Linked DNA regions of Homo sapiens: region 1 is linked to region 2. Evidence: fine-mapped expression QTL. A gene starts in region 2. The other region holds a variant in brackets. All regions are shown on one strand. Distances are between the middles of the regions.

Region 1 (16,041 bases), 52 kb before region 2:
AGTGCCAGTTTCGTAACTCTAGTGGGTGAAGAGAACTCCTTAAAACCAATGACCATGTGGCCCCTTGTCTATACAGACCTGGCCTTTGGACCTTTCACCATAGCTGTAATATAGACTAGGATGGTTCATCAGATCCACAGGCCCATCTCTTCCCGCTTCCATCTCATTTATGGCCAATTAGACACACAAGGAATGGAAAAGCTTGCAGAAGAGCAAAGCTGATAACTAGCTACATGGTCCCTAGATCAAAATGCTAACAAAAGGATTTGACTTTGATGGAGAAAGATTAGAAACAGCAGTGCCTAGGGAAAAGTGTAAAAGAGATCTGAGCATTCATAAAACTCCATTTTTTTGTAGTTTTACCATCCTGCCATCTCTATGCTGGATATTAAAGAAATGAGATTATAAACAGCCAGGATTCCATTCCTCCAGCATCTGCTTCAACCACAGTCCACAACAGCCTTTTATAAAATGAGGGAAGCAATGAGGTAGAGAGGAAATAGCCTTAGGAAGAGCCAGCTTCTTCCTCCTCTATAACTGATCTGAGACATTATCCATTTTTTGATTGACATTTGCTATTTGGGAGGTGGAGTCATCCAGCATCTAAACCCACTTCCTATGCATGAGAAATTCCCTAACTTAAAAGCAGTCCCGGTAAAAGTTTAACAACCATCTACGAAAAAAAGGAGGGGAGGACCTAATTTGTAGTGTCTGCTGATTTCTCTGGTGTAAATACTCCCACAATGGCCAATTTCAAACTATTAGTGTGACATCACTGAATGCAGAATTGGGAAGAAATGTGCCATAGCACATCACTATAGAATATTTCCACCATACAGATATAACAGACATAAATAACTTCCAGAATATAGACAATAGTAAAAGTAACAAAATAATTGGGAAGTCATGAATTTTGAGTGTTTAGTACCTTTATTTTTAATATAATGTATTTACCTGTGTTTGAATATAATGTATTTATTTTTTAATTATACATTTTATTTTAAGATTAGTGTCACAACCAAAATATTGACATGGACGGGGCAAAATTAGAGAACATTTCAATCACAATAATGGTCCCCCAAGTTGCCTTTTTGTAGCTGTCCCCTCCCTAACCTCTGGAAACCACTAACCCGTTCTCTATTTCTGCAACACTGTCACTGTAAGAATATTGTATAAATGGAATCATACATTGTGTAGCCTTTTGAGAATGGCTTTTTCAACTCAGTGCTATTCTCTGGAGATACACAGTTTACTGTGTTGTGTGCGTCAAAAGCTTATTCTTTATCACTGCACCATTCACCATTCACCCATTAAAGGACATCTGCATTGTCTCAGTTTTTGGCTATTGCAAATAAAACTGCTATAAACATTTGTTTAGTTTATTGTGTGAATATAAGTCTTCCTTTCTTTGTGATAAATGCCCAAGAGTGCAATTGCTGAGTCATATGGTAGTTGTATGTTTAGGTTTTTAAGAAACTGCCAAACTGTTTTCCAGAGTGGTTGTCCCATTTTACCTTTCCACTGGTAATGTATGAGTAATCCAGTTTCTCCACATCCTGGCCAGCATTTGATGATATCACTATTTTTCATGTTTCTCTGTCTCTCTCTGTCTCTCTCTCTTTCTCTCTCTCACATCCTGATAGGTGTATGGTGATACCTCATTATGGTTTTAATTTGCATTTCCCTAATAGCTAATAAGATTGAACACCTTCTCATGTGCTTATTTGCCATCTGCATATTCTCTTCAGTAAAATTTTTCTTCATGTCTTTTGCCCATTTTTTAAGTGGATGGTTTGGTTTTTTGATGTTGAGATTGAGGAATTTTTTTTTTTTTTTTTTTTTTTTTTTTTTTTTTTTTTTTTTTTTGAGACAGACTCTTGCTCTGTTACCCAGGCTGGAGTGCAGTGGCATGATCTTGGCTCACTGCAACCTCTGCCTCCCGGATTCAAACGATTCTCCTGCCTCAGCCTCCCGAGTAGCTAGGATTACAGGCACATGCCACCACACCTGGCTAATTTTTGTATTTTTAGTAGAGATGGGGTTTCACTGTGTGAGTCAGGATGATCTCGATCTCCTGACCACGTGATCCACCCGCCTCAGCCTCCCAAAGTGCTGGGATTACAGGCATGAGCCACCATGCCTGGCCCTGAGGAATTCTTTATATAGTCAAGACACTAGTCCTTTATTAGATATGTGGTTTGCAAATATTTTCTCCCACTCTGTACTTTGTTTTTTCATCCTCTTAACAAGGTCTTTTGCAGCATAAAATTTTAAAATTTTAGTGAAGTCTATTTAATCAATTTTTTCTTTCCTTTTATGCTTTTGTTGTCAAGTCAAAGAACTCTTTGCCTAACCCTAAACCCAAAGATGTTCTCCTGTTTTCTTCTAAAAATGTTTATAGTTTCAAGTTTTACATTTAATTCTATGATCTATTTTGAGTTAATTATTGCATAAGGTATGAGATTTATATCAGAGTTTTGTTTGTTTGTGTTTGCCAATGGATGTCCTTTTGCTCCATCACCATTTGTTGAAAAGGGTATTTTTTCTTCAATGAATTACTTTTGCACCTTTTGTCAAAAATTGGTTGGGTATATTTATGTTGGTCTATTTCTAGGTTTTTAAATTCTGTTCTATCAGTCTTTGCAACTATCCCTCCACCAATACCACACAGTCTTGATTACTGTAACTATATAATAAGTCTTAAAATCAGGTAAACTGATTCATCCCACTTTATTCTCCTTTTACAAAATTATTTTAGCTATTCTGGTTTCTATGCCTTTCCATATAAATTCTAAAATAATTTTGTCTATATCTACAAAAAAGCTTTGCTTAGATTTCAATAAAAATTGCATTAAACCTATATATATTAGTTTAGGACAAATTGACAACTTTACAATGCTGAATCTTCCAATCCAGGAACGTAGTATGTCTCTCCATTTATTTAGATCTTCATTGATTTCTTTCATCAACCTTGAGTAGTTAATATAGTTTGGATATTTGTCCTCTTCAAATCTCATGTCACCTCAACGTTAGAGGTGGGGATTAGTGGGAGGTGTTTGGGTCCTGGGGGTGGATACCTCAAGAATGGGTTGGTGCCATCCTCATGGTAATGAGTGAGTTCTCACTTTATTAGTTACCACAAGATCTGGTTTTTAAACAGTGTGGCACCTCCCCACCCCCTTGCTTTCTCTATCACCTTATGACACGCCTGCTCCTCCCTTCCCTTCCACTATGATTGTAAGGTTCCTGAGGGCTTCACCAGAAGCAGATGCTGGCACATGCTTGTTGCACAGCCTGCAGCATCATGAGCCAAACAAACCTCTTTTCTTTATAAATTATCCAGTTTCAGGTATTTCTTTATAGCAACACAAAATAGACTAATACAGAAGTTTTCAGCATGTAGATTCTGTAAATTTTTATTAGATTTATAAAAAAGTATTTCACTTTTGAGTGGGCTGCATATGGTATTGTACTGTTAATTTTGGTATACATGTGTTTACTGCTAATATATAGAAATGCAATGGATTTTTGTATATTTATCTTGTATCCTATGATTCTTGTTGAACTAAATCACTTGTTCCAAAAGTTTTTTTGTTTTGTTTTCATTTTTATAGATGTCTTAGGATTTTCTATGTAGACAGTTATGTTATCTGCAAACAGGGACAATTTTTTTTCTGACCTGTATGTCTTTTGTTTCTTTTTCTTGCGTGTTGCACTAGCTAGAACTTCCAGCACTGGATTGAATAAGAGTGGTAAGAGAGGATATCCTTACCTTGTTCCCAATCTTAGGGGAAGTGCATTCACTCTCTCACCATTAAGTACAATATTAGCTGTAGATTTTGTGTAGACACCCTTTGTCAAGTTGAGGAAGCCCCCCTCCACTTCTATTTTCCTAAGAGTTATTAACATAAATGGATGTTGAATTTTGTCAGATGCATTTTCTGTGTCAATTGATAGGATCATGTGATTTTTTTAACTTGTTAACATGGTGGATTACCATAATTGATTTTTAAATACTGAAACAGCTTTTCATCTCTAATAAATTCCACATGATCATGATATATAATTTTTTTCTATATTGATGAATTATATTTGCTAATATTTTGTTAAAGATTTCTTGCATCTATATTCAGGAGAGATGCTAGTCTTTAGATTTCTTTTTTGGGGATTATTTTTGTCTGGTCTTGATATCAGAGGAATACTAGCTTCATAAAGTTCATTAGGAAGTATTACCTCCTCTTCTATTTCTGGAAGAGGTTGTGTAAAATTGGTAGCAATTCTTATTTAAATATTTAGTAACATTCTTCAGTCAAACCATCTTGGCCTGGAAATTTGGAGGTGGGGTAGGTGAGGAGGAGTTTTAATTTAAGAAATTAGCTTTGTTAATCATTACAGGGCTATTCATTAGAGGCTATTCATTACAGGGCTATTGTCTCTTTTTTTTAAGAGACAGGGTCTCACTCTGTCACTCAGACTAGAGTGCAGTGGCTTGATCACAGCTCACTGCAGCCTTAAACTCCTAGACTTCCTAGACTGCAGTGATCCTCCCATCTCAGCCTCCTGAGCAGCAGGGATTACAGGCACAAGCCATGGTGCCCAGCTTCAAATTAGCTCTTTTATATAGAGTGAGTTGTGGTCATTTGTGGTTTTTTGAGAAATGGTCTATTTCATCTAGGTCGCTAAATTTATGTGTGCAAACTTATTCATAGTATTCACTTATCAGTCTTTGATGTCTGCTGCAAGGTCTTCAGTGATATCCCATTTCTTTTTTTTTTTTTTTTTTGAGACGGAGTCTCACTCTGTCACTGAAACCTCTGTGTCCCAAGTTCAAGGAATTCTCGTGCCTCAGCCTCCCGAGTAGCTGGGATTACAGGCATGCACTACCACGCCCAGCTAATTTTTGTATTGTTAGTAGAGATGGGGTTTCACCACGTTGGCCAGGCTGGTCTCAAACTCCTGACCTCAGGTGATCCACCTGCCTCGGCCTCCCAAAGTGCTGGGATTACAGGCGTGAGCCACTGCACCCGGCCTGTTTCATTCTTGATGTTGGTAATATGTGTCCTCCTTTTTGTCAGTCTTGCTAGAGATTTGTCAATTTTATTGACCTTTTCAAAGAACAAATTCTTTGTTTCATTGATTTTCTCTATTGTTTTTCTGTTTTCAATTTTGCTTATATCTACTCTTATCTTTATTATTTCCTTCCTTCCGTTCACTTTGGGTTTAGTTTGCTTATCTTTTCTAGGTTCTTCAGGTGGGAGCTTAGATTATTAGTTTGAAACTTCTCCTCTTTTCTAATGTACACATTTAATGCTATATATTTCCCTCTCAGCATTGCTTTGGCTGTGTCCCACAAATTTTGATGTGCTATATTTTAGTTTTCATTTAGTTCAATAATTTTTTAAATTTTCCTTGAGTCTTCCCTTTTGACTCATTAATTACTTAAAATATGTTGGTTTAGTTTCCAAGTGTTTGGAGATTTTCCTATTATTTTTCTGTTATTCTAGTTTAATTCCATTGTGGTCAGAAAACTCTATATTATTTTAATTCTCTTAAGTTTGTTGCAATGTGTTTTATAGCCCAGAATAGGGTCTATCTTGGTATATGTTCCATGAACATGCAAAAAGAATTTGTATTCTGATGGTTTAGTCTTAGTGTTCTATAAATGTCAATTAAATCCTCTCAGTTGATGTTGAGTTCTTCTATATCCTTGCTGACTTTAGCTATCAATTGTTCTAGCAATTGTTGAGAGAGGGGTGTTGAAGTCTCCAGTTACAACTGTGATTTGTCTGTTTCTCTTTTCAGTTCAATTGGGTTTTGCTTCTCCTATTTTGCAGCTCTGTTGTTTGGTACATGTACATTTAGGATTGCTATGTCTTCTTGGTGAATTGACTATTTTATCATTACATAGTATCCCTCTCTGTCTCTTACTGCTGAATGATTACAAAGGTTCTGACTCCCCACTAGGCATCCTCTGACACCATCCAGTGGTGCCGAGACCAGCTGGGTCAGGGAGACCCTAACCTAGCGGCGCTAGAGGAATTAAAGAAACACACACAGAAATATAGAGGTGTGAAGTGGGAAATCAGGGGTCTCACAGCCTTCAGAGCTGAGAGCCCCGAACAGAGATTTACCCACATATTTCTTAACAGTAAACCAGTCATTAGCATGGTTTCTATAGATATTAAATTAACTAAAAGTATCCCTTATGGGAAATGAAGGGATGGGCCGAATTAATTTCAGCAGGAACACACCTTAAGACACAGATGGCTCATGCTTTTGTTTGTGGCTTAGGAATGCCTTTAAGCGGTTTTCCGCCCTAGGCGGGCCAGGTATTCCTTGCCCTCATTCACGTAAACCCAGAACCTTCCAGCTTGGGCGTTAGGGCCATTATGGACATGCTACAGTGCTGCAGAGATTTTATTTATGGCCAGTTTTGGGACCAGTTTATGGCCAGATTTTGGGGGGCTTGCTCCCAACACAGTGGGAAGGAGGAAGAGTGCCTTATTACTGCTAGATGGGGCTGGAAGTCCAGGCTCTACTTGGTCTCCTATGACATCACTTCATCGTGAGTACTGAGGTGCCTTGACAGTTTCTCAAGGTTGGAAGTATAAGCTGCCAATTTAGCCTTTGTTAGCCTGAGTTGGGATGGGGAGATCACAGATTTTTCTGCTGCATTTGGCTGTTACTGTCTGAAAGTTTTCTGTCTTGCTCTGTTTCTTCTTTCCTACCCCTTTGACTAGAGAGAGCAGACTTTGGTTGGGGCTTTTTTGCCTACACCTATTGGCATTTCTGCATTGCCAGCTTCTTCAGCTCCAAGTCTGGGATATATGACACAAAAAGAAAATACAAGGAACTCAGTAATGTATTATTCCTTGGGTCCCAAGGTCCCTAGCTGGTCTGCCTTCTTCTTGCCTCCATTCAGAGACTTATATTTCTTTTATACTTTGCAAGAGGAATAGAAACAGTATATCTACTATAATTTACTTTTTAATAATGACTATGTTTAACAACCAGTTCACAAGTCCCTGAAATTTTTACAAGCAGCTCTTGTAAGCTAGCTCCAACACATCACTACTGAGTGTCAGAGCCAGAGCTGCCTCCCACCACAGAAGCTGAAATGCCAAAAGCCTCTTTCCCAGCCTTCTAGCAACTTCGACACAGGCACATGACATAAGCCAGTCAGGAACATCCACCTGAGACCTTGTGATGGATGCAGGTATTAGTGATGGATGCAGAGAAGAGGGGCAGTGCAGAATCCTCCTGGTGGCCGTTCCAGGGGTGATATCCCCCACCAGGGGCGCAACTGTGGCATCTCACGTTCCACAGCAACAGCCACATTGCCACCGGATGTTTTCTGTGGCATGTCTGTGACCATGGTTCTGAGTTGGAGTCTCCTACCTTCCCAGTGTCTGTGAATGGCTTTTCAACAGCCCTGTTTCTGCTTAAATTAGCTGGAGCTGGCTTCTGTTTGGTGCAAATAAGAATTTTGACTGATACACATTCCCACTGGCTCTCAGCAGCAAACCCCCTGGGAAACAAAAACCTCAGCCTCTACCACAGAATGTCCTTATTCTTGCTCAGGGGAAATTATCTGAGGAATAATTAACAGCAAACAGAACAGTAGAATGTAACTTAGAAGGGCTTACTGAGAGGGACTGCTAAGACCCCAAAGCCATCACGATTTAACCTGCTTTCTTAGTTGCCAAATACCCTCCTCAGCAATTCTGATCCCCCGCACAGTAAGCGTGTGTTTAATTACAGTCTCCTGTGAGATGAGCAATTTGGCATGGTGCAGAATATACCATCTAGCCTGACCTTGGGAACAAGACAATCCAATGACACTAAAATCTTACTTTCCTTTCTCCCTTTCCCACTTCCGTTCTCTCCCCCTGCACTGCTGAAGACTCACTGGTTAGGAAAATATTTTATGTCTTATGTCCTTGAGGGTGGCTTTTGCGCACTGAAAAGACCACTCTGAGATTTACTGGGGTTTTGAAAATCAGTATTCAATTTATTAAATTTATAGATTTAGAAATTTATAGCTCTTCCTTAACGCTTTTAAAATCACCTTAGGAATCTTATTGTCCTATTTATAAGTCTAGCAAATATTAACAATCACTTTGAGAGGGTTTTGATTAATGCTTAGCCCCATTTACACACTTAGTTAATTAAAAGTCTTTAACATTTTAAATGGCACTTAATAAATTTAATAAATTCAATTCCTTTTTAAGTATTTCATCTGACTGATAAAACTTCCCAAGTACAAAAGTAATTCTTACAGATTTAATAAATTCAGCATACAAGACAGAGTGAACCTTAAATTCTCTTCAATGTCCAAACTATATGTAAACTTGGAAATATTTCAACTTATCACAAATTTCAATCAATTATTCAAGTACATACATTAAAATGAAATATTGAAGGTGGTCTAATATTCCAGTAGGCCGAATTCTCTAAAATTATGCCTACACAAATATTATATATGCACAAATTCTTTAACTTGAAAACATGAAAACTATAGTTTTGATTCCCCTAAACATTTGTGTGCTTAATTTTAAATTTTCCCAGGGCTAAAAAAATTAAACGAGATGAAAATAAATTTTCCCAGGGCTAGTAAAATGTCTATCCACAAGAGAGGTATTCCCTTCTCAGCCACCTGAGGTTGCTAATCAACCAGAGATTCTGGGTGGGATGCCGACTGCATCTTAGCTGCTGACTCTATGGACCTGTAGAGCCCTATTTCCAGTTTTTAACTTTCTAACTTAAAGATGGAGGTGGCTGAGTAGACTAGTCCCTTGATTACAAGTGATCAGTTACTAAAGGTCAAGCCAGAGTGTAGTCCATAACTCCCTATCCAGGTTCTATACCTGATTGTGTATTTATGTGACCATTAAGGCTTA[T/C]AACTACATATTTGTCCATCTATCTCTACAGAATCCTGCATCCTTTTCATGTGCTTCTTATCTCATAGGACCACACACCTCTTATAGATGTTTAAACGTCACCTAATTGAATTCTAGTGACGTCACAGCTTTGTCCAATATCCTGAGATCATTCTCCAAGTCACTGCTCACCCCCACCCCCTCACCCTACCCATCCCACCCTCTGTGGTCTCTGAGTTTCTGACTCCCCTAGGAATGCAAAAATGGACTCCCCCAGGATCTACACACCTTTTGACGTGGCGAAACTAAAGAAGAAAGTTCCTAAGCCTAGTAACTCTGCTGAGAGATTATTTGGGGATTCCTATAGCACTACAGCCACTGCTTCCCCCCTCCTGAACCCCCTGCTTCCTGAGCAAAACCACTGCAGTGATCAGGGTCTGTTGAAAGAATATGGTCTATGAAGGAGGTGCTGGAGCCAAATTCCTAATCTCTCAGAAAGATGAGGCCACTTAACCAAAGTCCAGCTAGTGCCTGAGGTGAGGCCAAAGCCGAGGATTCCTGACTGCCAGTCCCCATGTTCTGGCCACTCAACTGTAATGCCATCAACAACAGCAAAGCCAGCAGAGCAAGAGAGGTGCTCACAGATCACAGTCCCAACCAAGCAGCCTAAACATTAGAACGTGCTACGTTCAGCCCTTTCTTTTTTTTTTTTTTTAACTTTAAGTTTCAGAATACATGTGCAGAACATGCAGGTTTGTTATATAGGTATACGTGTGTCATGGTAGTCTGCTGCACCTATCAACCCATCACCTAATGCATTAGCTATTTGTCCTGATGCTCTCCCTCCCCTCACCCACCACCAACCCAACAGGCCCTGATGTGTATTGTTCCCCTTCCTAAGTCCATGCGTTTATGTGCAGCCCTTTCTGTTGCTTGATAAACAGAATAGAAATAGGCATGGGTCCTGCCCTCAAGCTTACTTTCTAAAATAAATATGCATACTGTGTATTTGCATTTTCATACCAAGGAGAAGCAATAATAAGAAATAACTTTCAACCACAGTGGAAATTGTAGTGGAAATCAACCATAGGAAAGAATATATTGGTTTAGGACAATGGTTCTTAAACCTGACTCCATATTAGAATCTCTGGGGTTTTGAGGGGATGTCGGGGGAGGGGAATGTTTAATAAAATACCAGTGTGAGCCTGACATGGTGGCTCACACCTGTAATCCCTGCACTTTGGGAGGCCAAGGCTGGAGAATCAGTTGAGCTCAGTTCAAGACCAGCCTGGACAACATAGTGAGACCCTATTTCTACAAAAAATAAAAATTAATTAATGTAATTTAATGCCAGTGTGAACCTGTAGAGATGAGGCTCAGACACTGATATGTTTTGAAACACTCCAGGTGATTCCAGCGCTTAACCAGAGCTAAGATCCTCCGACTTGAAGCAATGATTTCTGACATTTTAGTCCTTTCCCTGGCATTGTCACAATTTCTTGCTGTGTATGCTGTATTAGTCCATTCTTGCACTGCTATAAAGAAATACCTGAAACTGGGGCCAGGTGCAGTGGCTCACGCCTGTAATCCTAGCACTTTGGGAGGCCAAGGTGGGTGGATCACTTGAGGTCAGGAGTTCGAAACCAGTCTGGCCAACATGGCAAAACCCCATCTCTACTAAAAATACAAAAATTAGCCCGGCATGGTGGCGCACACCTGTAATCCCAGCTACTCTGGAGGCTGAGACATGAGAATTGCTTGAACCCGGGAGGTAGAGGTTGCAGTGAGCCAAGATGGCACCACTGCACTCCAGCCTGGGTGACAGAGTGAGACTCTGTCTTGAAAAAAAAAAAAGAAAGAAAGAAAAGAAAAGAAAAAAAAGAAATTCCTGGAACTGGGTAATTTATAAAGAAAAGAGGTTTAATTGGCTCGTGGTTCTGCAGGTTGTACAGGAAACACAGTGGCTCTGCTTCTGGGGAGACCTCAGGAAACTTACAATCATAGCAGAAGGTGAAGGAGAAGCAGACATGTCTTAGATGGCCAGAGCAGGGGTAAGAGAGAGAGGGGGGAGGTGCGACACACTTTTAAATGACCAGATCTCATGAAACCTCACTCACTATCACAAAAGCACCAAGGGGGAATCTGTCCTCATCATCCAATCACCTCTCACTAGGCCCCACCTCCAACACTGGGGATTGCAGTTCAACATGAGATTTGGGCAGGAACACAGATCCAAACCATATCATATGCCTACTAACTGTACAGTTATAAAGTTAGTACTTTTCCTTTAAATCAATTCACTAGTTTTAACATATGTATTTAGACTTATCCTACACAATACTGTCTGCAAAATTATGGGGCTCAAGTACTCATTGTATTTTTTTCTAAAACACATGAAAATATATAACTGTGACAGCTAAACTATCAAAACCACACCTAAAATCATCTCACACACCACTACTGGTATCCTTCCCCACTTGGGGAAATATTGCCTAAGGACTCCTCTGATCTCAGAGAAATGTTCCCCACTTCTGGGCTCTTTTCAGTAGTTTTGAGGACTTGCTGCTTTATATTTGTTGACACAACTTAGTTATTTTAAAATGTTGTTTGCTGATTGGGTACAGTGTATACGGCTCGGGTGATGGGTGCACCAAAAGCTCAGGAATCACCTCTCAAGAAGTTATCCATGTAACCAAACACCACCTGTTCCCCAAAACCTATTGAAGTAAAAATAATTTTAAAAATTAAGTTTAAAATATTGTTTGCTGTGTGGGCCACATTCGTAGAACAAATCCACCTATCTCAAGAGCCTGATATCCTGACCAGCTGCTCCGGACCTTATAGTCTAGGCTGGATGTCCCTGGAAGAGACACCACTTCCTGAGAGTGTGTCCTTCCTAAGCTCCCCCAACCCACCTTCTCTCTCCCAAGCCTAGAAAAGCTGCATGAGCTCCCTGGTGGCCCTAGAGCGCAAGGACCGCTATGGTCTCTCTTATGATAACCAGTTGTCACAGACAAGGACGCACTGCTCACTGGATCTAAATGTGGTGGAGACTGTGACCTCTTGGTCCTTCTTTCTCTGCCAACTGCTCACCCCCTTACCCTCCATGCACCCCTGTGGCCAGGCACTGTGGGAGGCATTACGAGTACAAAGGTGACTCAGGCCAGGTCTCTGCCCATCTCACAGCCTATAGGGAGACAGACAAGAACACGCAATGGGCGTGCAGTGAGAGAGGAGGCGTGGCAGGGGATGCTCAGGGACTCACGAATGAAAGTCTGGTTTTGCACCCTCCTCCACGCTCCCCTCACCCCCACCTTCCCACCAGCTCTGAGCCCTTGCTCCCAGCCCCTTCCTCATCTCCAGCTGTGCCCCACCCCCTCTTTGTCCCTCCTCTCCCATGGTCCTAAGCCTTGTCCCTGGAATTGCTGGCATTAAAGAGCTCCCTGCTCCTCCCCTCATCTCCCAAACCCAACTGTGACTCATCCACCATCCAGAGAACAACCCAGTGGCTGTCCGCTTAGTCAGCACTTAATAAAGCATTGTTCAGTAAAAAGAAACAGTTCCAACAAAATTAAAAATAATCTCAGCAGTAGGCTCAAATATTAAATCTTCCTTCCAGAACATAAATCCTACAAACACTGGAGTCTGCTCTTTGCACAAGTGGTGAATCACAATTATATAATTTATTTATCTGGAAACTACATTCCTCACTTTGCATTTCCTTTTTTGCCACACTGGATTCAATCCACCATTCCCTACTTGCCCAAAATCTGTTTTATTGTTGTTTTCGGCAATGGCTTAATTGCCAGCTGCATGGGCAGCGCTCAGCGCCAGTGCCCTTGAGTTCTGTGTCACCTTTCCTTTGCTGCTCAGAATTCCCTTTGAGAGCTCCAAGTGTCAACAGGCATGATCATTATTTGAGTCACCTGATAAGATACAAGAAGAAATGTCACACAGGCTGCCAAATGGGACACATTATTGCCACGTTCTGTGCCCTAAAGGAGGGGCCTAGGGCAGTCCCAGCAGATGGTCTATGAGCTCTGACAGCCAGACGCTGTCACAAGGGCATCAGATATCTTGAGTGAGCCGAATCCTCAGCATGAACAAGAAAGTGACAGCCGCCCTCTTTGCCCAAAGTAAAAGAATGAGCTAGCACTCCTCAGGGCCTGAAGTGGGCCTGCACTTGTCCGGGGATAATGAAAGCTTTGGGCAGCTACCCAAGATGTGGCCATAACCCCACTCGGAAAGCAGTAAGGGGCGGGGGAAATAGCGACAGGCCGGATGTCCTTACTGAAGGGCTGGTGCACGTGCACGTTCCCAAAGCCGCTTCCAGTCCAGAGCAGATGGCAGAGAGGCCGGATGTTCGAAAATACAATGGCCTTTGTCCCCTTTTTAGTAACTGTCCTGTCCTACCCCCCAGAGCTGGGCCATCAGGGCCGGCTGGGGCTCCCCTCCACTAACTCTCCTCTGCACCTTGAAGAGGGCCTGAGTTGAGGGCCCCAGCACTCCGAGAGGAGAAGCTCAGAGGCCCGGTAAAGAGAAAGTCAGAGGAAACACCGGGGCTACAAAGGGCTTCAGGACAAACTCTGAATGTCCCCATATGACACGCTCTCTGGCCAGCCAGGCCCCAGGCCAGTCCCGGTTGCCTTTCTGTGGGTTTGCCGTGTATCTTGTCCGCCAGGTTATTTCTGGCAAAACTGAGACTGTTGCACAAGGAGTGGCCTCGGGAATCCCAGAACTGCCTCTCTAAGCCAGCAGAATCTAAAATGGTCCAGGGTCCCCAAATCCGGCATCACCCTGGCGTCTAAGGGATTGGGCTGCTATCTCTGCTCCTCGGAAGGCCAGAGATCAAGAAAAGAAGAGAGACGTTTTCCATTCCCTCTGTGGCCCCACAGCCTCTGATTTCTCCAGTAGCTACAATGGAGCTCATCCCCTGTGTCACACAGCCAAGCTGGGTCTCTCTTTCCTCTCCTATCCCTCTGGGTCTCCATCCCTGGCAGCCATTTTGGTTGCTGCAGCGTCCTGGGTCTTCTCAACCCTCCATGGTCCCCCTGAGTGTGCTGGGTGTGTTGGGTGAGCTCAGAATGTTAGCTAACCCTCGCCTCCTGCCCTTCCTAAACTACGGCCGCCCTCCCTTGCCATAGATGGGTCGTCTTTAAATGAGTAAGGCTGCCAGGGTGACAAGCGGTTATCACTGGCTGTCACTGAAGCTTTTTCGCCTACTGCTCTGAGGCCTCAAGGCCTAGCTTTGCTGGAGTCCACCCTGACCCACCAACCGGGACCAGGACTCATTCCCCTTGTCAGAAGGCCCCGCCCCTCTTTTCATTTTGCCGTGGAGGAACACCCACAGTTCCCGGCTATTTGCCAAGCCGCGAGATGACTGACACCAACTGTGCCCAATGAGGAATCCACCTTCTGGGCCCACACAGACATTTCCTTGCAGGGGCTGGAAAAAGTGCAGTTCCTTCCTGTGGGGTCTAGGAATCCCCGAGACCAAACAGGGGAGCCTTTCCTGCATCCGGGCCCGCAAGGAGAAGCAGGACTCTAGGAAGGAACCAGGGTTCTCATATGCAAAGCCTCTCAACCAAACTTGTCTGAGAGGCCCCTGACATCTCTGTTTGGAATCTTCTCTGCACATGTCCCTTCTAGGTTTTGCGTTTGACCTTGACTTTGTTCCTTGGCAAAGTTCTTTTGAAATTCCACCCAGCCTTGGCCAATCTAAAGGAAAAGGAATCTTGTCCTCACATACACATACAAAGGAGAGGCTAAATGTAGTTAGAGGCCACATGGCACCAGAGACCCAGGGAGCCAAGGTGGACTGGAATAAAATACTTACACCCGGACAATAATCCAGGGCAGCTGGAGGGCTCTTCTCTTCCTTAGGAACACAACAAACAGCCTCACGGTGGCCTGTCCCTTCTCTCCTGACCAGTTTCGGGGCACCAGCTGTTGGCCTGAACACCTAGGAGTGTATGGTAACCGCACCTGACCGCAGGAACTTAAGCACAGCCTGAGAATGGCCCTGTGTGGCAGGCACACCTGAATGTATCTTCCAAGCTAGGGAATCCAGGAGTCGCCAACCTGGAGAGTCCTTCCTTGTCTATGAGAAACATCTGAGGCCCCAGGCTGTGGAACACGGGACATAAAGGGAAAGGTCCAGGCCCAAGTCTGGGTTGAATGAAGATCCCCAGGTGGAGGTTGTTAGGGTGAAGGTGCTAAGTGGAAATGCTATAGAAACTGCTTTTTGCAACCGGTTGTGGTTTCTCCTGCCCCCGCTCACCACCAGCGGACTCTCTCCCCTGTATGTAAGCCCCAGTAAAACCCCATGTCTCGTTTGCCAGTCTGGGTCTCTTCTTCCACCTCTTGAGCCTGGTGCCTTCCCCACTGGAGTTCATAGGAGTTCAGCACATTGGGGAGCAAAATTGGAAAAAGAGAAGAAAGCAGCAGCACCAGCTCCGGAGGAAACCGCTAACGTGGAGCTGAGGGATCCCCAGCCTCAGAAGCTCTGAGCTGCCCAGAGCTGCAGAACACGGAACTTGCCTGACCGGGCTTGGTCTCCGCGGGAGGAACTGGATGCGCTTGAATGGGCTCTCTGAGCGCCGCGGATCCACCAGGTGGCAGTGCTGCTATTCCTCAGTCGGGACAGAGCCTGCAGCATGCGAGAGCGGCCACCGGAGGGCAACGGGGGACGATGCGCTCCTTCAGGCTGGGGGTTGCCTAGCAACTATGACGCAATGGGCTCCCGCTCCCCTCAAGTCCCCCAGGTTATTTCTGGCAAAACTGAGACTGTTGCACAAGGAGTGGCCTCAGGAATCCCAGAACTGCCTCTCTAAGCCAGCAGAATCTAAAATGGTCCAGGGTCCCCAAATCCGGCATCACCCTGGCGTCTAAGGGATTGGGCTGCTATCTCTGCTCCTGGGAAGGCCAGAGATCAAGAAAAGAAGAGAGACATTTTCCATTCCCTCTGTGGCCCCACAGCCTCTGATTTCTCCAGTAGCTACAATGGAGCAACTTTCTCCCTCTCCCCTCCCCGGTTCTTCCGTCTTGCTAAGCAGGGGTTGGATTCATGGGCATGTGATCTTGAGCAGAGCTTGAGTGCCCCCACCCCTACCGCCCGCTCCTCGGCTGCACTTGAGGGGGCCTGGGGGATGATGATAAGGCC
Region 2 (16,041 bases):
CAGCTCCCGGTGTCCTTCCAGCAGGTTGTATGCCAAATCCAGGTGCCGCAGATTCCTCAGCTGCTCTAGGCCTGGGGTGGACGCAAGAAGGAAGGAAGAGCATGTGGATGAGTACACGCAAGTGAGTGTGGTGCATGCACTGGGGGAGGTTGCAGCAGAAAGACCGGCCAGAGCACCCCTGCACTCCCCATAAGCCCTCTCAAGGCTCTAGAGGCACATGGTCCCCAGGCCAGCCCCAGCCTCACTCTCCCCCTTCCCCTCCATGCTTGCCCCATCACACACCCCCACTCACCATGCAGGCTCCGAAGCTCATTGCCTCGCAGTATCAGGACCCCCAGAGCAGCCCCTGAGGGTCCCATTCTTGGCACCAAATGCAGGCGATTATAGGAGATGTCCAGATGGTGGAGCTCACACAAATCCTGGCAGGGGTACAGGGGAGAAAAAGATTATCTCGTTGACCAAACTCTAGCCAGGGTCCTCTGAGACCTCTTCTGGACTAGGCCTCAACCTTGGCCTATATAAAACTGCACACACTCAGCACAAATGATTTCATCCACCCCTACTCCCACGTTAAAAGACTTGAACAACACCAGCACTGTTCCTAACAGTTCAAGGCCACACCCTGAGCATGGCAACTCCAAGCCCCTTAAATTCCTGCCTGGGAAAAGTCAAAGCTGCCAAAAGAATTTCCCATTTGTTTCAGCCAACTCCTGAAGATAGGGCCCCGTCTCCCAGTCTCTGTGAAAGGGTAAGGGCCTTATTTTGGTAAGTGCCAGTTAGTTAGCAAACTCAGATGGGTTTCATGTGGACCAACCTGATTTCCACTCCCCCAGCTCTGCTCAAGGCCCTACCATTCCCCTGCCCACTCCCCGCCGCCCTCTTTTAAAATGCCCAGCCGGCCAGGTGCAGTGGCTCATGCCTGTAATCCCAGCACTCTGGGAGGCCAAAGAGGGGGGATCACTTGAGGCCAGGAGTTCGAGACTCACCTGGCCAACATTGTGAAACCCCGTCTCTACTAAAAATACAAAAATTAGCTGGGCGTGGTGGCACACACTTGTAATCCCAGCTACTTGGGAGGCTGAGGCAGGAGAATCGCTTGAACCCGGGAGGCAGAGGTTACGGTGAGCCAAGATCGTGCCATTGCACTCCAGCCTGGGCAACAAGAGCGAAACTCTGTCTCATTAAAAAAAAAAAAAGGAAAAAAGTCCACTGACACTTCTGTATCTTCCAGGCTCTGTTCAGGGAAATAACCGTGACTGCAACACTGTCTATGCTATCACCACAAACATTCAAACTACAAACGAAGAAATCCATCGGTTGCCACTGCTATCCTCATTCCACCATCTAAAGAAACATAGAGCTCAACACCTAGAAATCTCAACTGGCTGCCCTCTGGACTCAGAAAATGGATTTATAGTCTGCTCCAACCATTCATCTTTGTTTCCCTTTTTGTTTCCATAGAAATGTCCCCCATTAAATGCCTGGTCACTCTCACCATCCAGCAAAATTCATCCACTACCAAGTCCCAATAAATGGCTCAGTTGGTTTTTAGTGAACAAAAGGTGATCAAGGAAGAAAAGGATTTATATTGTTCAGGGGAAAGAGGAGTGTCTCTTCTTTCCCTGAATTAGAGGAGGTTCTCACCTTGATCAAACCCTACTCAGGCTCCTCTGGGCCTTCTTTTTGACTAGGCCTCAACTTTGGCCTGTTAAGAACTGCAGACTTGTTCAGCACAAGTTCAACAAAATTCAACACAAATTATTTTTGTTGACTCCTCCAACCCCCACAGTAAAAAACCTGAACAAAAACAGCAAAGTTCTAATATCTCAAGGATGCATCCCTAGAATGGTGACTCTAGCCCCCTTAAGCTCCTGCCTGGGAAAAGTCAAGGCTGCCAAAAGAATTTCCCATTTGTTCTAGCCAACACCTGATGACAGGGCTCCCATCTCCCAGTCTCTGTGGGAAGGTAGGAGCCTAACTTTTAGCAAACCCAGAAGGGCTTCATGTGAATCAACCTCCACTTCTGCTTTTCGTACATTTCCACTTCCCTTACTCTGCTCAAGCCCTCACAGTTCCCCTTCCTATTCCCTCACTCTCCTTTTAAAATGCCCAGCCACCTCTGCACAAATTGAAGTGGCGTTCAGTTCAGGTTGCACCCTCTTCCCCGCTGCAATAGTTTATCACTGATAAAAAATCTGTCCTTACTTGGTCGGGCACGGTGGCTCACACCTGTAATCCCAGCATTTTGGGAGGCTGAGGTGGGCGGATCATGAGGTCAGGAGTTCAAGACCAGCCTGGCTAAGATGGTGAAACCCCATCTCTACTAAAAAATACAAAAATTAGCTGGGCATGGTGGCGGGCACCTGTAATCCCAGCTACTCGGGAGACTGAGGCAGGAGAACTGCTTGAACCCAGGAGGTTGAGTTTGCAGTGAGCCAAGATCACACCACTGCACTCTAGCCTGGGTGACAGAGCAAGACTCTGCCTCAAAAAAAAAAAGAAAAAAAAAATCTGTCCTTACCACTTTAACTAGTTCGGCTTTATCTCTGACAGGTGGATGGGAGGACCCAGAAGAAAGGTTCTTCATCATAATCACAAAAGCTACCAGTTTCTGAGCTAGGCACTAGACTAAGCAACATTGGGTACTTCTTCACAATCATTTTAATACTATAAAAGCAGGTATTCAGCCGGGCGTGGTGGCTCATGCCTGTAATCCCAGCATTTTGGGAGGCCAAGGCAGGTGAATTGCTTGAGGTCAGCAGTTCAAGACCAGCCTGACCAACATGGTGAAACCCCATCTCTACTAAAAATACAAAAATTAGCCAGGTGTGTTGACACGTGCCTGTAATCCCAGCTACTTGGGAGGCTGAAGCAGGAGAATTGCTTGAACCTGGGAGGCAGAGGTTGCAGTGAGCTGAGATTGCGCCACTGCACTCCAGCCTGGGTGACAGAGCGAGACTCCATCTCAAAAAAAAAAAAAAAAAAAAAAACCAGGTACTCTTGTGATTTCTACTTTACAGGTAAAGAAACCAAGAGGTAACTAACTTGCTCAAAGTTGCACAGGTATTAGAAGTTGAGATATGAACTCTGGTTTGTCTGATGCTAGTGTCTAAGCAGTGCTATCTCCCAGAATGCAGCTCCACCCTCATGGCAAGAGCAAGGTGGGAGTAAAAGCTGGTCAAGGAGAGAGAGTGAGAGCAGAGCAATCAAAGACCCATGGTGTGCCAGCTGCCAAACTGCCCATACTCACCATCAGGAATCCCTGACAGTCCTGGACTTGATTGTGGCTTAGGTTCAAGAAACGCAGAGCTGACAAGAGGCGCTGAGAGAGACGGGGAGGAGGCAGAGAATCGATGTTCACTACAATACTATCTGGTCAACCAGCTGGCCCTCCTCCCCAAAGGCCTGGCCTTGCCCTTCCTCGAAACCCTCTTCCCTCTGAGGCACTCACCAGGGAGCTGTCTAAGGCGGTCAGTGCATTGTAGCTGAAGTTGGCAGAAAGCAGAGCCAGCCAAGGGAGGGCAGAGCAGAAGTCGCCGCCGCAGGCTGAGAGGAGCTCCTGAGCAGACAGATGGGTGCTTCATTACCCCACCCTCCCCTTCCTCCCTATGCCAAGGCCAAGCTCTACCACCCAGTCACTCATTCATTTTTTATACACTGAACTCCATCTGAAGATACAGGCTTAAAGCCCAGGTCCCTGACCCAAGAACTCACTGTAGGGACAGTGGGAAGGTAGACACTAGAATATGTAATATAATATGGTAGGTACGACTATAAATATACAGGCAGTTACAGAGTGCTGCGGGAACACAGAGAGGGAGTGAGGACACTGTCTAGAGGGAAGCAGGAGGCAGGGAGAGCTGCAGAGAGGGGAGAACATCAGAGCTTGGTCTTCTACATCTCTCAAGTTGAGGTGTCTGAGCTCACCCCTCACTCTCCTTACCTCTAATGCCTGGAGGCTCCTGCTGCAAATCAGGGTCTCCAGCTGGGAGTAGATGCCTCGGAGGCCATGCAGACAGTGGAGGGGAACACCTCGGAGCTGGGACAAGGAAAGAGGAGGGAGGAAGGCAGAACCCCACAGAAGACAAAGACCTCATCCCCATCCCCTAGTTGGGAGGAGGGAGAAGACCACAAAGCCCAGCTATGATTTAGGGAAGCAGTAAATGGAAAGACAGTGGATATCACATGACTGCAGAGCAATGGGTATACTCAGGCCTGGCCTCCTCACCAAAGAGGCTCTTCTCTTTCCCATCCCCAAGGGGCTGCCTCAAGTTGGGTGCTGTGCACCAACATCCCCCCGTGTCCCCATACCTCCAGGTGCCGAAGGGATTTGAAGGGGAAAATCTTGATGGGCCCTGTGGGGCCAGGACCAGCAACATGGACCAGCTGAAAAAAAAAAAAAAACTCAATTTACTGAGGCACAGCAGATCTTCCTGCCCTCAACATTCCTTCCTTAGCACAACCACTGGTACCTCTGACACCCTCTGGATCCTGGCACTGCAGACTTCTGCACCCCTACCCTATCCCCAACTTCCATCATTCTCTTGGGCTCCTTGCACATCCTGCCTCTTCCCCACACCCAGAACCTTGAGTGAAAGTGTTTTCTGCAGCACATCGAAGAGAAACTGAAGCTGAAGAATAACAGGGGAGTCGGCAGGATGGGAGGGCAGAGCCACAAAGCCTGTCTGGCCAGGGCCCCATGGCCCCAGGTGCAGCTCAAATACGTGGTTCAGCTGTTGCAGTGTGGGAGTCAGCAGGCTCAGGGTGCTACAGCCAGACAGGACCACATCCCCTGCAGAAAAAGGGGCAAACAGGAGGGAAGACACAGTGAAAAGATTTTTCTCTTTATTCTAAGGCTCTATGATGCCAAAATATACCCACTCCAATCCATATTGTAGATCTTCTATTGCAGGATCAAATTTTCTATCTCCTTCTCAGCTCAAAAGCATTCAATGGCTCCCCTCATCTTCAAAAAAAGTCCTAACATTTCATTCAGCCTGATGAGACTGCTTGGCTACACAACTCCAACCAACTCTTCCAAATTTTCTTTCACCTTCTGCTCAAAAGAGCCTCATCTACTGACAGTGCTGGAAATACAGCCAGCTTGGTTCACAGTTCTCTCTTGTTATGAGACACCCCCTTCCACCGCCCAGCTTGAGACCAGCCTCCTCCAGGAAGCCGCCTCAAGAAGTAATACTGCTGAATTTTCATATTGCAGTCACTCATTATTACACAAAAGTTAATTGGAAGTTTTATCTTTCTTTCTTTTTCTGATTGCAAAGCACATCTGTAGAAACTTTCAAACAATACTAAAAAGTATGTCATAGAATAACTATTCATTATAGCACTAAGGCATTGTTATTGCTGTCTGTTAAAACTGCTCTCTCTAATGAGACTTTCATCCTTGAGGGCATCTTTTGATCACTCTGGTATTCATCACTGCACCTAAAAAAGTGCAGCTACAAGCTAGGCATGAAGGAATGCTTTTTTGGCTTAAAAAATATAATAAGTATGGAGTCAAAGAATGCTGCAGAAATAATACAGAAAGGTCCCCTGTATCCTTTACCCAGTTTTCCCTAATGGTTACATTTTATATAGCTATAGTACAATATCAAAGTCAGGACACTGAGCTGGTTGCCGTGGCTCAGGCCTGTAATCCCAGCACTTTGGGAGCAAGGCACTTGAGGTCAGGAGTTCAGGACCAACCTGGCCAACATGGTGAAACCCCGTCTCCACTAAAAACACAAAAAATTATTCTACGACTCTAACCTCGTCTCTACTAAAAATACAAATATTCTCAGCTGGGCATTGCGACATGCGCCTGTAATCCCAGCTACTCGAGGGGCTGAGGCCAGAGAACAGCTGGAAGCCAGGAGGCAGAGGTTGCAGTGAGCCGAAATTGAGCCATTGCACTCCAGCCTGGGTGACAGAGGTAGACTCCATCTCAAAAAAAAAAAAAAAAAAAAACAAAAACAAAAAAAAAAACACAAAGGGCAGGCGTGGTGGCTCACGCCTGTAATCCCAGCACTTTGGGAGGCCAAGGCGGGTGGATCACGAGGTCCGGAGTTAAAGACCAGCCTGGCCAATATGGTGAAACCCCGTCTCTACTAAAAATACAAAAATTAGTAGGGCATGGTGGTGCATGCCTGTAGTCCCAGCTACTCGGGAGGCTGAGGCAGAAGAATCACTTCAACCTGGGAGGGAGGCAGGGGTTGCAGTGAGCCGAGATCATACCACTGCACTCCAGCCTGGGTGACAGAGCGAGACTCCATCTCAAAAAAAAAAAAAAATTCAGGACACTGATGTTGGTACAATATGTATATATAGCTATATGCTGTTTATATAAATTCCTGCAGCCACGCAATCAAGATACAAAACTATTCTGCTGCCACAAAGCTCTTCTCCTGCTACCTCCTTGTAGTCACACATTCACACACCCACCATTCATCACTGAATAAATTAACAAGTCCTACAACCTGACATGAAGGATTCTGTATGTACTAGACACTGAGGATAGATACAGACATGGTTCAAGGACTCTTCCCACGTTCAAAGGGCCTCCTAGTTGTCTCCTCCCAGAGAAGGATATAAGACATTTGCAAAGTTATCAATACAAGCCAGGAAATGAAACTGCTACTGGCCAGGTGCTGTGGCTCACGACTTTAATCCTAGCACTTTGGGAGGCCAAGGCAGGTTAATCACTTGAGGTCAGGAGTTCAAGACCAACCTGGCCAACATGGTGAAACCCCGTCTCTACTAAAAATACAAAAATTAGCCGGTCATGGTGGTGCACACCTGTAGTCCCAGCTACTCAGGAGGCTGAGGCAGGAGAATCACTTCGTCCCAGGAGGTGGAGGTTGCAGTGAGCTGAGATTGCGCCACTGCACTCCAGCCTGGGTGACACAGCAAGACTCTGTCTCAAAAAAAAGAAAAGAAAGAAAAGAAAACTGCTATAAAGAGAGCTTCCACAGATATCGTCAATAGGAGCATGGAGTGATGGAGGACAGCTAACATTAACTGTAGTATGTACCAGATGACTTTGGTATCTCATTCAAACCTTCTCAGAATCTCTCAAAGAGAAGCACTATTAACCCCATCTTACAGATATGAAAATTGAGGTTCAAAAAAGTGAAAAATCTTGATGGAGATCATATAATTGGTAGGAAGTTACTTCTCCTATCTGATCTCAAAGCCAAGGCTTTTTCTACCACAACTAATGCCAACCAAGTATTCAACAACTACTGTGGCTCCATTATGCCCAGGCACAGTGCCAAGCATCAGGGAAATCATTACAATAACAATAGCTCCCAACTGTAAGCAGTTACTATACTTGCAGGCATTGTACTAAATACATGAATTAAAACGAATCCCCACAAATGTTAAGTACAATCACTATGCCAATCTGTGAGGAAAACTGAGCCTCAGGAAACAGTATGGCAAGTTTGAAAGAGGGTTGATATTCCAACCCAAGTGGGTCCGACTCCAAATCTCGTGCTTCTATCTACTGTATTTAGTACCTTGCTACACAATAATGATTATGACCGAGATCAGTCCCTGGTCCTGAGGGGCTTTTAGTCAGGTAATGATCACTTCCTTCTGACAGTGTCAGAGAAGGCACGGAGGGAGGGATACCGCCCTTTGGCCTCAAAGGACGGCTAGAGTTTAGGCTATCACAGGCAAAGGACACTGTAAGGGCGAACAAACCTGGGAAAAGTAAAGAAATTGAACTCTGACACCTGGTGACCCTACCAGTCGTAACTCCATGACTCTCAGGGCGTGTCTCCAGAAAGCACCACCCCCACCTCGTCCGAGGTCCGAGGCCCAGCCCAACCGGAAGTCCACTCACCGGACTCCCGCAGCAACCCCGCGAGCTTCCACAACAGGGAGTCCCTCTGAGCGGTCGTCATGGCCACGGGACGCTGGGGGGCGGAGCCTGGGGGGGGAAAGAGGAAGCGGAAGAGCCTCAGGTGGGCGGTAGTGCCAAAAGCCCAGGGCGTCCGCGCAAACCGAGGCGTCATGCGGAGAAAAAGGCGAGAAAGAAAAGAGAGGAAGAGCATCCTCCTGGCCGCCCTTTCGAGGAACATAAGTCCTGGTCAGACATACCGAACCTCCCCGTCTGGTCCTCCTACCAGCTCAGCTGCCCGGCGCCTATCAATGATGGAAAGGAAGTCCCGCCCCGGAAGAAAATCGAGCCAAGGGACGACCGGAAAACATGTCTCTGCCGCCGGAAACCGCGCCGTAGATCATGCAAACGAATCGAAAAGGGGCGGTGCGGGGGCTGTCTCCTGACCGCGGTGGTGGCTGCAGTGGTTCCCTGGGCTTCCTGGCCCGGAGCTGGGCACCCATTATTCCCCCGCCCTGCGCAGCCTGGGGCTCCCGCTTGGCTTTCGGCGAGCCTACCGCGCCGGTGAGGAAACCCTGACTCGTTTGCAAACTGGGCGGGGAAGCAAAGTTTAGAGAAATGGAGCTTTGTTAGATAAAAATTTTTTCAACGCAAACAGTCATTTTCCAGTGAAAGGAGAGCGTATCCGCCGTAGGATGGACTTAGATCGTGTAAAAGCTGAGGCCACCGAGGATATAACCTCCGGGGTCCTTTGCCTCCTTTTCCTTAGACTCCCTCCAAACTCGTGTATCTTTCCTTCAGCAGTACTGGGCTCCACGCGAACCTAGTCCTTTGTCTTTACCCTATTACCTTTCATAACATCCTAGTTGAAAAGTAGTTATTCAACCGCGTTTGAAAATGAGAACAGGTTCACAGAGGCTAGGTTACTTGCGAAGGTCGTTCAATTAGTAACCAGTAGCGCCAGGACTGCCAGTTTCTTGCTTCCGAATTCTCATGGTAGCTTTCACCAGGCTCCCCGTCAAATGCTAACGTCAACTACTGAACTAGATTAGCAAAAAGGTCTTTTAACAGAATTCCTGGTTTTCAGAGAGAGTTTCTTTCATGAAGCGCCCCATTTCTACAGAGGAAAATCAAAATGAATCCTAAGCCAGTTGAAAGGAGGGATAGGATCATAGTCATCTTTATCCCAAGTTGCCAGATTTGAAAGATTTTATTTTCTCAAGACAAAATATTTGAAATGGCAAATATTTCAAATATTTTGAATATTTGAACCACACAATTTCGCATTCATGGCATACTACTTGTGCTCTGAGCTGAAAGCCTTTTAGGTTAAATAAAGTAAGTGGAGATACATCCGAAGCAGCAGTGTTGAGCTCAGAAAAACAATACCCCAAAATACGGCGCTTTGGTATGCTGACTATTTTGAACTAAAAGAGACTGGAAGGCCTCAGGCACAGTCTCTCCGACCTTTTCCTGCCCTCCTGTCTCCCAGCCTTCTTTCTTCCCCAAGGCAAGCCATAGAAACCAGAATTCCTCTTCCCCAAGATGAGTCACAGAAACTAGAAGCCCTCTCCCCCAAAGCCAGCCATAAAACCTAAACTTCCCCCCACCTTTCTATGTAAGAGCTGGCCGTGGCCTGGCGCGGTGGCTCACGCCTGTAATCCCAGCACTTTGGGAGGCCGAGGCCAGCAGATCACCAGAGGTCGGGAGTTCGAGACCAGCCCAACCAACATGGAGAAACCCTGTGTCTTCTAAAAATACAAAATTAGCCGGGCATGGTAGTGCATGCCTGTAATCCCAGCTATTCGGGAGGCTGAGGCAGGAGAATCGCTTGAACCCGGGAGACAGAGGTTGCTGTGAGCCGAGATCACGCCATTGCACTCCAGCCTGGGCAACAGGAGGGAAACTCAGTCCAAAAAACAAGCTGGCCGTAAAGAACTTCTCTGGCCTACCTTGTCTGATAGGCCGTAAGACCCTCATTCTGGAAGAGATCCTGCCTCATACCTGGGAGGAAGGAATGCTACACAGAAAGACCTCGTTGGGTTTCCACCTGCTGTCTGTTACTATTAAGTGGCACACTTTTTGCCCAACCACATTACTGCAGGCTGTCCATTTTTCATAGAATCTAAGCATTAAAAACAAGTTTTCCCTGGCTCTTTGGGTAGCCATTTCTGAAGGCTCCCATGTCATGTAAAACTTTGATTAAATAAACTTCTTAGTTTATTTTAGATTTTTCTCTTAACCTATCTTGTTATACGAGCTCTGACCCTTATGATGAGGAAGAAAGGCATCACAACTTTTCAGCCCCTACAACAGCTAACTAGTATGCAAATATAAAGTCAGAGTAAGAGCTCAGTATATTTTGTTGAATTATTAATCCCATAACCTGACGATTGTCAGTCCCTGTTTATTAATCATCTGGAACTTAGAAGGGCAGATTCTCCCAAACAGTAACTGCCAACTCTACCCCTCTTAGGCAAGAAACAGATTCTTTTCAAGTCACTGACATTGCAGTGTCTTGAAATCTGTTTCAGCCGTGCCTTTTCAACCCATAGTTATTTTCTGAGAATTGCTCCACCCACATGGGTAGCCCCTGTAGCCAGGTTTGCTCTATATCCCTTTGCTTCTCAGAAACATGGAAGTGGACAAAGGGAGAAGCAAAGAAAGCTGAACTACAGAGGGAGAGAAAAATAGATCTACTAAGGGAAAGCAACAGGAGACTCCGTAGTTCTTGTTTCCCTCCCCCTTGTGAGGCCCACTCTCCTTTCTACCCTTGGCCTGTAGGGGAGGCCTTGGCTGCCTTCCAGAGAATTCTCCCCCGCTTTTTTTTTTTTTTTTTTTTGGCCTAAGTTAATCTGAATGTATTTCTGTAAATTGCTACCATAAGAACTTCAACTAAGACAAAACCTTTACAAAATGAAGTCTAGATTAGCAAATCTAAAAGGGAAAAAAATTCCCATTCATCATAGCAGCCAAAAAATCAATAAATTATAGATATAAATACAAATACACACATGCTTATAATATTTTGAGAAATATGCCAGATCTATGTGAAGAGAACAAGAGAACTTTAGGACATTAAAAATGACCCAGCCAGGCACAGTGGCTCACACCCAAAATCCCAGCACTTTGGGAGGCCAAGGCAAGTGAATCACTTGAGGTTAGGAGTTCGAGATCAGCCTGGCCAACATGGTGAAACCCTGTCTCTACTAAAAGTACAAAAATTAGCCAGGCGTGGTCGCAGGCACCTGTAATCCCAGCTACTCTGGAGGCTGAAGCAGGAGAATCACTTGAACCAGGGAGGCAGAGGTTGCAGTGAGCTGAGATGGCGCCATTGCACTCCAGCCTGGGCAGCAAAAGCAAAACTCCTTCTCAAAAAAAAAAAAAAAAAAAAAATTCTCTTTATTAAAATGGTGTGCAGCCTGGCACGGTGGCTCACGCCTGTAATCCCAGCACTTTGGAAGGCCGAGGCGGGCAGATCACGAGGTAAGGAGATCAAGACAATCCTGGCTAACACGGTGAAACCCCGTCTCTACTAAAAATACAAAAATTTAGCCGGGCGTGGTGGTGGGTGCCTGTAGTCCCAGCTACTCGGGAGGCTGAGACAGGAGAATGGCGTGAACCCAGGAGGCGGAGCTTGCAGTGAGCCGAGATCGCACCACTGCACTCCAGCCTGGGTGACAGAGCAAGACACCATCTCAAAAAAAAAAAAAGTATGCAATGCCATTTCAAAAATTCATGTTGCTGTAAAGTAGCATAACATGTATGGGCTGCTATTACATAATTTCATACTATCATCAATGAGTCTGTGTTTCTCGAAGACATGCTATGATATCACTCTGTTAACTTGCAAACACTCTTCTAAGTTTTAGTCTCCAGGACTGGTACTCCACCTAAAATCAGAAATGTCCAGTTGGTTCTTCTAAGCACCAACACCAGCTGCACATGACAAAGAATTCCTAGCACTCTGGTACTAGGGAGGCACTACTCATCTGCCTGGGGCTCCACGCCCATGTTATTGTGTGGAGAGAGAGCTGCTGCTGGTAGCTTCCCTACCACCCCGAGTTTCCTGGAGTAGGCTGTGCAAAGTGCTGATGATAAAAGAGGGTAAGGAAAGGTGTGCTGGTTACTAGCTTAGGTTTCGGGGATGAAAAGAAGGGAGAAGGCCGGGCGTGATGGCTCATGACTCTAATCCCAGCACTTTGAGAGGCCAAGGCAGGTGGATCACTTGAGGTCAGGAGCTCAAGACCAGCCTGGCCAACATGGCAAAATCCTGTCTCTACAAAAATTAGCCAGGCGTGGTAGTGTGCATCTGTAGTCCCAGCTATTCAGGAGGCTGAGGCAGGAGAATCGCTTGAACCCAGGAGGCGGAGGTTGCGGTGAGCTGAGATCACACTACTGCACTCCAGCCTGGGAGACAGACTGAGACTCCATCTCAAAAAAAAAAGAAAGAAAAGGAAAAAAGAAGGGAGAAGAGAGTATCTTCATACAAGAATGAAGAATGACTGCCAGCCGCATAATATAGATCTCAGATCCTGCTTATTTCTGATACCTTGAACCATGCGAGACCCAGGATCCTTGCCTACAGGGGAACAGAAGTCATATTTCACCTTTAGGATACAAGCCATTGTCCTGGGTCTAGACCTCCCTGTTCTGATGCTGCAGCCCCCAACAGAAGATCAGATAACTGAGACCTACGGATTCCACCAAAATGAAAATGTTACACTTGGGTTGGGGGTGAAGGGGGGTGAAATTGGATGATCTATTTGTTTCATCATCTTGCTATCTTTAGCTGGGCATGGTGGTGGGTGTATGTAGTCCCAGCTATTCAGGAGGCTGAGGCGAGAGGATTGCTTGAGCCCAGGAGTTCAAGGTTGCAGTGAGTTGTGATCACACCACTGCACTCCAGCCTGGGCAACAAGGTGAAAAAACTTGCTATCTTTGTGTAGTAGGAAAGGGGGAAGGATGGAAGAGAATGAAAAGGTATGATTACCTCCAAATATAGTTTTGGTAAAAAGAGTTTGTACCAGAGAGGAATCCGTATGCCTAGTAGCCACAGCCCCAGGATGAGTGGCCGGAGGTAGTTCTTTCTATAAGTAACCTTGGCTCTGCTACTAGACTTGGCCACAAAAGACTGGCCCAGGAATTAACTCAGTTACCAAAGTCAAAAACATACAGGACACATCAGCCACACTGGAGGAGGTCTGGCATGAGAACTCCGAGTTAGACCATGACCAGGCACGCTCATCAGAGCCTGGTTCCGGAAGAGATTTAATTTGAGGCACACAGAGGGAAAGCTGGGGAGGCAGAAACTAAGCTCACCGAGAAATCAGAGAAGCTGGGGCCTGAGAATGACTGACTGAAAAGAAAGCAACAGAATAACAATATTCCAGTGACCCAGCAGCCGCTCCACTCTCCCCTTATGAGAGGAGTTGACCATTCTGCATAAAATAAACTGAGTGCTTCCATGAGGAGCTCTGCAGTAAACCCGACGTTATATGAGAGTGTCTTTAATTATTTTCATTGTCTATCCCGGAAAGCCATGGAACCATTTGAGAAGGGGGTTAAGAAGGGCTATAAGAAAGACCAGAACTATGCGCTTCATTCAGGACACAGGAAATGGAGAGATGAAGACCCGAAGAATATTGTAAATAAGTAAAAAAAAAAAAAAAAAAAAAAAAAAAAAAGAAAAGAATTGGTCTTCAAAGGACAGAAACCTGATAGAAAATATGGATAGAGGTGGCTATGGAGAAGAGAGGAAAGCGGACAGAATCCGAGACAGGAAGGAAAACACAACCTGCTGTTTCAGGCATAACCCGCAGAAGGCTGGTTGGCAAAATCACCTATAGTATGTGACAAGTGTCTTCCATCTCAGTGCTCCCTACACACATGGCCAGAGAGAGGAGGGGAATGATCCACAGCAAGGGAGGAAACTGCACATAGAATAGCAGTCAGCCGAGCGCGGTGGCTCACGCCTATAATCCCAACACTTTGGGAGGCCAAGGCGGGCAGATCACGAGGTCAAGAGATTGAGACCATCCTGGCCAACATGGTGAAACCCCATCTCTACTAAAAATACAAAAATTAGCTGGGCATGGTGGTGCACGCCTGTAGTCCCAGCTACTTGGGAGGCTGAAGCGGGAGAATCACTTGAACCCGGGAGGCGGATGTTGCAGTGAGCTGAGATCATGCCACTGCACTCCAGCCTGGTGACAGAGGGAGACTCTGTCTCAAAACAAACAAACAAACAAAAGAATAGCAGCCAGCCTTGCAGTGTTAAGCATGGGCCAATGGGGGAAAGGAAACGAGAAAACTGAGATCACATGGCTTAGGGTCTCCAGGACTAGGGTAAGCGTAGAGGCTGCTTTGGACGCTCAAAACCTCTGGAGAACCACAAAGCTGGAGCTGTATTTCGGTCTTTTGTTCATTCAACAGGTATTTACTGAGCCCTGACTGTGTGCCAGATCCTGTGTTAGATTCTGGGTGAATAGGCCAGGTGTGGTGGCTCATGCCTGTAATCCCAGCACTTGTTGGGAGGCCGAGAAGGGCAGATCACCTGAGGTCAGGAGTTCGAGCCCCGCCTGGCCAACATGATGAAAGCCCATCTCTACTAAAAATACAAAATTAGCCAGACATGGTGGTGCACGCCTGTAATCCCAGCTACTCAGGAGGCTGAGGCAGGAGAATCACTTCATCCCAGGAGGTGGAGGTTGCAGTGAGCTGAGATCACGCCATTACACTGCAGCCTGGGTGACAAGAGCGAAACTCTGTCTCAAAAAAAAAAAAGGATTCTAGGTAAATACAGGAGACAAAGGTGTTCTTGTTCTCAAGAAGCTAGCCAAGTGGTGGAAGAGCAGACACCACCAGTCATGTTACATTGTATCAGCTTCCTTCTGCTGCTGCAACAGGTTACCCCAAATTTGGTTGCTTAAAATGACAAAATTTATTATCTTTACATTTCTGAAGGTCAGAAGTCCAAAATGGGTCACACTGGGTTAAAATTAAGGTGTCAGCAGGGCTGTGTTCCTTCTTTCTCGCCAGGGGAGAGCCTGTATTCTTTTTTTTTTTTTTTTTTTTTAAGACAGGGTCTCGCTTTGTTGGCTAGGCTGGAGTGCAGTAGTGTGATCATGGCCCACTGCAGCCCCAATCTCCCAGTCTCAACAGATCCTCCTGCCTCAGCCTCCCAAGCAGCTAGGACTGGATGTAAGGGTAATATGACTGCAACTTCTGTCACCCCATTGATCACCAAGGTTGATTCGGCTAATCTGGCTGGCTAGGCGGGTGTCTCCTTCCTCCCTCACCTCTCCATAGGCGTCCCTCCTGAAGCTGTGCGCTCAGTTGAAGAAGATGACCGTCCCCGATAGAGGAGGACTGGTCTTTGGTCAAGGGTATACGAGTACTGTGCACCCCTGCTAGAACCTCCAAACAAGCTCCCAAGTAGCTAGGACCACAGGTGTGCACCACCATGCCCAGCTAATTTTTTATCCTTTGATCTTTTGTAGAGATGGCTTCTTGCTATGCTGCCTATGCTGGTGTTGAACTCCTGGCCTGAAGTGATCCTCCTGTCTCAGGCTTTCAAAGTGCTGAGATTACAGGTGTGAGCCACCATGCCTGGCCAGAGAATCTGTATTCTTGTCTTTTCCAGCTTCAAGAGGCTGCCGTCTTCCCTTGCCTGTGACCCCCTTCCATCTCCAAAGCCAGCAATGGCTGCCTGAGTCTTTCTCACATCACATCACTCTGACACTAACTCTCTTGCCCCTCTCAACATTTAAGGACCCTTGTGATTACACTGGGCCCACCTGGATAATCCAGGATAATGTCCCTACTTTATGGTCAGGCCAGGTGCAGTGGCTCAGATCTGTAATCTCAGCACTTTGGGAGGCCAAGGCAGGTGGATCACTTGAGCCCAGGAGTTTGAGACCGGCCTGGTTAACATGGGGAAACCCCGTCTCTATGAAAACTACAAAAATTAGCCAAGCATGGTGGTATGCACCTACAGTCCCAGCTACTTGGGAGGCTGAGGTGGAAGGATTGCTTGAGCCTGGGAGGTCAAGGCTAAAGTGAGCCATGACTGCACCATTGCATCCAACCTGGGCGACAGAGTAAGACCTTGTCTGAAAAAAAAAAGAAAGAAAGAAAGAAAATGATTTTAAGGTCAGCTGATTAGCAGCCTTAATTCCATCTGTAATTCTCCATTG

The links. PIP is the estimated chance that this variant, and not a neighbour inherited with it, causes the effect. A credible set is the group of variants that fine-mapping cannot tell apart.
Region 1: its variant is the best candidate, but not a certain one, in a credible set for the expression of STK11IP in whole blood (TOPMed, PIP 0.88).

What each region holds. Positions count from the first base shown.
Region 1 is chr2:219,642,137-219,658,177 of GRCh38, reverse strand. No RefSeq gene overlaps it. Among named protein-coding and RNA genes, the nearest start is that of SLC4A3, 23 kb to the right of the region's middle. RefSeq lists enhancers at 11,589-12,358, 12,359-13,129, 13,901-14,672, 15,331-15,380. The variant T/C (reference allele first, on the strand shown) is at 8,901.
Region 2 is chr2:219,589,986-219,606,026 of GRCh38, reverse strand. STK11IP (serine/threonine kinase 11 interacting protein) reads right to left here and starts at 8,170. Exons shown (of 25, transcript NM_052902.4): 1 at 8,104-8,170; 2 at 7,847-7,933; 3 at 4,587-4,792; 4 at 4,312-4,386; 5 at 3,944-4,039; 6 at 3,452-3,559; 7 at 3,251-3,322; 8 at 293-419; 9 at 1-71. The coding sequence starts at 7,907. It also overlaps the pseudogene RN7SKP213. RefSeq lists enhancers at 1-965, 7,729-7,788, 7,999-8,218.